Homo sapiens: one gene and its partner. The protein of the gene in region 2 purifies or fractionates together with the protein of the main gene of each other region. This does not show direct contact. Each region holds a gene or a part of one and is shown on either strand. Other genes may lie near its edges.

Region 1 (3,500 bases), on a different chromosome or scaffold from region 2:
TTTAGGAAAAATTAATCTGGCTACAATGGAGTCAAGAATAGGAAGAAACTGCCTTGTAAATAATTCCGTTTTCTAACAGACTAAGGTGAAAGTTAAAAGCATAGTAAGAGCTAAAGATGACAGTAAAGGACACTTAAAGGTCTCAACATTAGTCTAGTGAGGGGAGGTCTGGTGCGGTGGCTCACGCCTGTAATCCCAGCACTTTGGGAGGCCAAGGTGGGCAGATCACCTGAGGTCAGGAGTTCGAGACCAGCCTAGCTAACATGGTTAAACCCCATTTCTACTAAAAATACAAAAAAATTAGCCAGGGACAGTGGCGCGCACCTGTAATCCCAGTGCACCTGTAGTCCCAGCTACTCGGGAGGTTGAGGCAGGAGAATCGCTTGAACCCGGGAGGCGGAGGTTGCAGTGGACCGAGATCACACCATTGCGCTCCAGCTTGAGCAAGAAGAGCAAAACTCTGGCTCAAAAAAAGGAAAGTCTAGCGAGGGGAAGTGAAGGAGGTGGTCATAACTATGAGACCACATTAAGCCCCAGAAGCAAAAATTTTAAATGTTACAGAATTAAGACAAAAAGAAGCAGTTAAAAGATTTGGCAATTAGGTCACTAGCGACCTCAGAAGAGATTTGTTATAGTGTTGACAGTGCAGATCAGACAGTGGATTTCTTTCTAAAAGTATAGGGAAAAGAAGAAATCGTTAGAAAAAGATGCAGAGATTCTGGAGGATAAAGCATTTTTATCTCGATGGAGGATAAAGCACTGCAGACTAATGAAAAAGCCAGAAGAGGGAAGTCGGTGAAGAGAAACATAGAAATTCTTCTAGTCATTACCAGATAAGCACACACTAAGTTTACCATACCAGGTGGTGGCAGCAAATTCATTATGTTTGGTCCATATAAACAGACAGTTTAAGAATTGCAGCTGCTATTAACTGAGCACCTACTATTGGCCAGCTGCATACCCTGTATTATTTTTAGTCCTCACCTCAACAATCTCAGGAAACCAGGCATTACCATACTCATTTGTTAACTGACTGAACTACAGCTCAGATGTTACATGACTTGCCTGATATCGCAAACTGGTAAATACTGGAGCAAAATTGTTTTTAATAGTTATATTAAAGCATAATGTACGTGTAGTAAAATTTACTTATTTTAAGTGAAAGATTTGATAAATGTATTAAATGTATATACTTCTGCAACAATCACCACAATCCAGTTTTATATAACACTCTATCACCCCAAAACTCCCTTCATGAGCAGGGCAGATTTAAGCCTGAATCTGTATGACTCCAACTCATGTCATGCTACAATGAGAAAAATGGCTTTTTTTGGCAGAAAATCTGCAAAATTAAGTCGTTACCCTTCCAATCTTCTCTTAGTACTCACTAGTTCCCTTTCCATGTGAGGCCCTCATATATCTCTAGAACCATACTCACATATCATGATCTCACCAAATTCACGAGTTTACTGTAATTTGGAAACATACCCCCTAAAAGGACAGTATAATCAGACTTTTATATAGGATGCTATTACAGATACTGTGCTCTTTTTTTAAAAAAAGCAAAAGGAGTTAGGAAAAGGAAAGACAAATGAACAGGTAAGTCCAGGAGGAAGACTGAATGAAAACAGAAGAGTAAGGTCCTTGAAAAAGGAAAATGTGATATACAAATAAAGAAAACATGAAATAACAGAAGTCAGGAGTCTGTGTCATGGAAGAGAGACTAACTGGAACAGAAGCTTCTCTTCCATAAGCAATGTAAAACCGTACAGAGACATAGGATGGAATGACTTCCTAGGCAGGAGTTAACACTTATTTGGCTAAGAAACAGGACTATACAATAATAAGACAGACAAAAATCAAAATAAAGTGAGACAATATTCATAGTAAAGTTATAAAGCTAAAACTTGTTAAATTTTATAATCATGATTTTCCTATAACTAATTAAAACAAGTGCAAATTTTTCTTTAGGTAAAAAAACAAGCAGGCTGGGCGCGGTGGCTCACGACCATAATCCCAGCACTTTGGGAGGCCAAGGCAGGCAGATCACCTGAGGTCAGGAGTTCAAGACCAGGCTGACCAACATGGAGAAACCCCGTCTATACTAAAAATACAAAATCAGCCCGGCGTGGTGGCACATGCCTGTAATCCCAGCTACGCAGGAGAAACGCTTGAAACCAGGAGGTAGGGGCTGCGGTGAGCCCTGATCACACCATTGCACTCCAACCTAGGCAACAAGAGCAAAACTCTGTATCCAAAAAAAAAAAAAGAATTATAGACATATAAGAATTCAGGCCTGGTGCAGTGGTTCACATCTGTAATCCCAGCACTTTGGGAGGCTTAGGCAGGTAGATAACCTGAGGTCGGGAGTTCAAGACCAGCCTCACCAACATGTAGAAACCCCATCTCTACTAAAAATACAAAATTAGCCAGGCGTGGCGGCTCATGCCTGCAATCCAAGCTACTCAGGAGGCTGAGGCAGGAGAATCACTTGAACCCGGGAGGCGGAGGTTGCGTTGAGCCGAGATTGCACCATTGCACTCCAGCCTGGGCAACAAGAGAGAAACTCTGTCTCAAAACAAAACAAAACAAAACAAAAACAAAAAAAAAAACAAGCAAATATAGAATTATAAATATATAAGAATTCAGGCCTGGTGCGGTGGCTCACACCTGTAATCCCAGCACTTTGGGAGGCCCAGGCAGGTGGATCACCTGAGTTCAGGAGTTCAAAACCAGCTGGCCAACACGGTGAAACCCTGTCTCTATTAAAAATACAAAAATTAGCCAGGTGTGGTGGTGCACACTTGTAATCCCAGCTACACAGGAGGCTGAGGCAGGAGAATTGCTTCAAGTTGAACCCAGGAGGCGGAGGTTGCAGTGAGCTGAGATCATGCCATTGCACTCTGGTCTAGGCAACACAGCAAGACTCCGTCTCAAAAAAAAAAAAAAAAAAAAGAATTCAGATACCATATCAGGGCCAGAAATAATTAAAATGATTAAAATAAGATATGACAAGCCTGGAACGAAAAAAAGTACAAATCTAAACAGGAGGATAAAATAAAATTTTCATTTAACTTATATTTTCACTTCCACCCAAACCTTTCCTTAGTTCTATAGAACTAGAAACACAATTCACTAAGTCTAGATGAAATGCTCTTCCAAGCAGAGCCAAAGAAACTGCTAGCCCATAATTAACAGAACACATATTTTATGACTATCTAATATATAACAGGTGTTGTAATATCCAATTTGTTAAATCAGTCCCCTGATTATTACCCTGAACACTCTGTCTAGTCCAACTTGATATTCCAAGAAACACTATTCTTCCTAGGAAAAAGACATACCTCTTTGAAATGAATGATTATAAAACTGTTCCAGTATTAGAAGAGAAGTCATTTTTTAATGTTAAGTAACAAAACCCAAAAATTTAGTTGTCAATTCTTACACTAGTAAGTCCAGAGATGGTATCCAGGTGACTACGGCAGAGAGTAATATACACA
Region 2 (3,385 bases):
CATTTTTGGAATCTCTAGTTCTTCCTACAGGAACGAGTGGTGACCCCACCAACTCGCTCACGCCTGACATAGCTTCTCACGGGGCCTGGCTCATGGTGGAAAATCGCATTTTCCTTATTTCTGCTTTTATAATAAACTTACCTATCATTTGAACTAACTTGAGTGGGTCTCAGTTCTTTGCAATAGAAAGGGTTGCTACCATGTAAGCTTTGAAAAATGAGGTGTAAACTGTGGATGTTACAAATGTGCAACAGTCCTTCAGAGTCGGAAAGGGTAGCTGGGACTCTGGGGCCTCTAGACTTGAGCACTTCCTGGGGAGGGAACCCAGAGTCCCACTTCCGGCCAGCAGAGCAAGGAGGTTCATTAAGCTGCCTTATCTTGAAGTTACCAGGTTTTAGGATCTATCCACTTCCCCTGTGCTGACTCCATACTCCGAAAGCAAGTAAACTTCAAGTAAAATTACCCTAGGGGAGAAGCAGGTACTGACAGACCAACATGAGTGTTTTCACTTATGAGCAGTTTTATTTCTCAGTGTAAGACATATAAATTGTTCTCACTGACATATAACTATTAAAAGAAAAATAAAATAAAACAATTTAAAAAGAAGAAATATAAATTGTATTTCTGAATCCAAGTCACCTGTGGGGGTGTAGCCAGCATTAAAATAATCGCCAGGACCCATGCAGGCATCTATCTCTGAATGAGGCAGTGCAGCATAGCAGTTAAGAGCTCTTGGGTCAGACATGGATGAACTGGTTGCATGATCTTGGCTCGTTACCAAGATAAAGTGACACAAGGTGTGTAAAGCTCCCGAGCTGCAAGCCAGGATCTTCATACACATACATTTTAGAGGATAATAGTCCTTTCAAAAGACACAGCTAAAGCCAATAAAAATAAACAAAAATAGGATCTACTTTTCTGGAATCACAGGTTTGGGTGCTTTGGATATGTTTTATCATTATATAGGCACTTGTGTGTGTCTGTATTTTTTTGAATATACAACATTTTAATGAGATACTGCACACTCCCAGGGAAAGCAATTCAATCTCTAATCCCTGGCTTCTGATCTCCACCTCTTTTCTACCTGCTGAGGTAAGGATGAACAACAGAACTTCTCAATTGAATTCTAAGCTTGGGCCTAAGCACGCTGTGCCCTCTGCCTTTGAGTTTGCACCCTGGATGGCTCCCCTCCTCCCAGGAGACCCAGTAGGGAGATGACAGAGCATTGTAGTTTACACTGAGCAGAGTAAACAGATGATGTTAAGGAGACTGTCAGTGAAGGGCATGATTATGCAAAATAAAATACAATAGTGACAAGAACAAGAAAATAAAACATGGTCACTCTTCCATCCCATTTCTCAGATGTCACTACAGTAGTCTCAATTACGGTAGTCTCAATTCTTTAGACTAAAGTTCATAGGTCATCCAACTTATGCCCTGGCCTCCTTCTGGAATTCTTTTACCTAGCAGTTTCTGAGCCCACAGCTGAGCTATTTGTGACCCATTTGCTCCCACTATCTCATTTCTTGACCTCAGATGGTAATCAACTGATCAGGAAGACAATTTCCCTAGGGTTGAGTGTGGTCCCTGGGTTATGATTTATGGCTATACCTTATGTCCTCCTGCCCCCAGGCCCTGCACCTTAATCTCACCCAGAAGTGGCAACACCAGGAGGAAGGAGGCAGTGAGTGGCGTCGGCTGGGGATGGCACACATCTGCCCATAATGACAATGGAGACAACCCAGTGCTCCAGAGTCACAGGTCATCCAGCCAGTTCTCTGCTGTTTCCTCTTCTTAAGATGCTTCTTCCCCTCTTTTCCCTATTGACCATAGGCATCCTTTAGACCACCCTTTTCAGAAAGCCATCCCCCACTCACCCTCTCCTTCCAGGCTGGGCTATGCCCCTTCCCCTGAACTCCCATAATGCTGGGGTTGGACTTCCCGTAACACCCACCACACTGTGCTGTAATTTCCTCTTTATGTTTCTCTGTCTTCCCAAGAGCTCTTTCAGATATAGAGCAGGTTTTTTTTTTCTCTATATTTTCAAGTCACCAGTGGCCACCACACTGCTTGGTTCATAGTTAACACAAACTAAATGGTTCTAGAGAATGTGATTACATGAACTCTAACATTATTGGAAGAAAACAAGATGAAAAGAGGTGAGATGCCTTGTTTAAAGTCATACAACTGGTTGACAGGCTGGTTCAAGAACCCAGGTCTTCTGACTTCAAATCCAGTGCCCTTTCTATGCAGCTACTTCTGTGCCAAGCACGGATGGTGGTGAGCAGAACTGGCAGCAGCCTGAGTCCCCAGGTACCCTGGCCATCCACTGGGCATTGGGGAAAGGACTTGATCAGTAGATTGAGAGTCCTCTCTTCTATCCCTTACCACCCGGCCCCATCCCATCTTCTAAAGCAGTCATTTCTATTCCAAGTCATCCAGGTGATTCAGCCAGGGATCAAGTCCACATGGTACTTGGGTTGATATGAGTCCTGTACTTAGAGGAGAGTAGGTAACTGCTCCTTCTCAGGAGCTCAGGGAGAAACTGGACCCTCGGCCCCAGAGCCCAAAGAAGGGAATGACCTTCCTAGTGAAGGAGGCAGTGAAGGTGTAGATGGGCTCTCGGGTGACAGCGTTGGTGAAGGTCACCCAGCCCACCTCATAGTCAAGAGACACCCTCACCTGCCGGGGCTGCTCCTTCAGGGTCAGCCGTGTGGGGAAGGAGCCCAGAGCCGAGACGAAGCCCCAAGCCAGCCTCACAGCCCACACCCCCTCCTCTGGCCGCAGCCGAAGCTCCCCCTTCCGCTGCACATCCTCGCTCACCACGCCCACGGTGCAGCTGCCCCCATGGGCCAGGTCTATACTCACCACCCACGTGTGTCTCCCCCCTGTGATGCCAGTGTGGGCCAGAACACAGGTGGCCCGGTCAAAACGTTGGGGGTTGTCTGGTGAGTTCTGCCATTTGTAGGAGAACTGAGCTCGCTGGTGGTCCTCGGACAAGAGGAGCTTGGGGTGGGAAGTCTGAGGGTCTAGAGAAATGTGAGCTGTGGGGATAACCAAAAGGGACAGATGTCAGCAGACATGCTATTACCTCCAAGGAAGGCATAGAAACTCCCCCTGGGCCCCTCCTGTTAGTGTTATTATTACCAAAAACATGTATAGTGCCTACGTGGGCCAACAGTGTGGAACCACCTGGGAACTTGTTAGATATACGCTCTCAGAATCTGCATCCTAACAAGATGCCCAGGTGATTTGCACACAGGTAAAGCCTGAAAAGCCTGCCTCAGAGGATGTGAAAGCTCTCGTTTAGTTCAGTGTGGTCCTCGGGAAAGCTCTTCTGCTCACCGCAAGTTGGCTGGTTTCCAAAGCTGTGCGTGCCAGCTTG

Evidence for each region.
Region 1: the proteins of TRIM10 (region 2) and ZMYM2 purify together in Homo sapiens (affinity purification with mass spectrometry; 4 studies listed by BioGRID and IntAct, with this or other methods). This does not show direct contact.

What each region holds. Positions count from the first base shown.
Region 1 is NC_000013.11:19,965,227-19,968,726, reverse strand, and holds part of ZMYM2 (zinc finger MYM-type protein 2), read right to left. Parts: coding exon of another isoform or gene 3,446-3,500; intron 439-3,445; exon of another isoform or gene 325-438; intron 1-324. UniProt on the Homo sapiens protein: Involved in the negative regulation of transcription.
Region 2 is NC_000006.12:30,151,443-30,154,827, forward strand, and holds the end of TRIM10 (tripartite motif-containing protein 10), read right to left. Parts: intron 3,045-3,385; coding exon 2,527-3,044; 3' UTR 2,330-2,526; coding exon of another isoform or gene 2,246-2,329; 3' UTR 501-2,245; downstream 1-500. UniProt on the Homo sapiens protein: E3 ligase that plays an essential role in the differentiation and survival of terminal erythroid cells. May directly bind to PTEN and promote its ubiquitination, resulting in its proteasomal degradation and activation of hypertrophic signaling.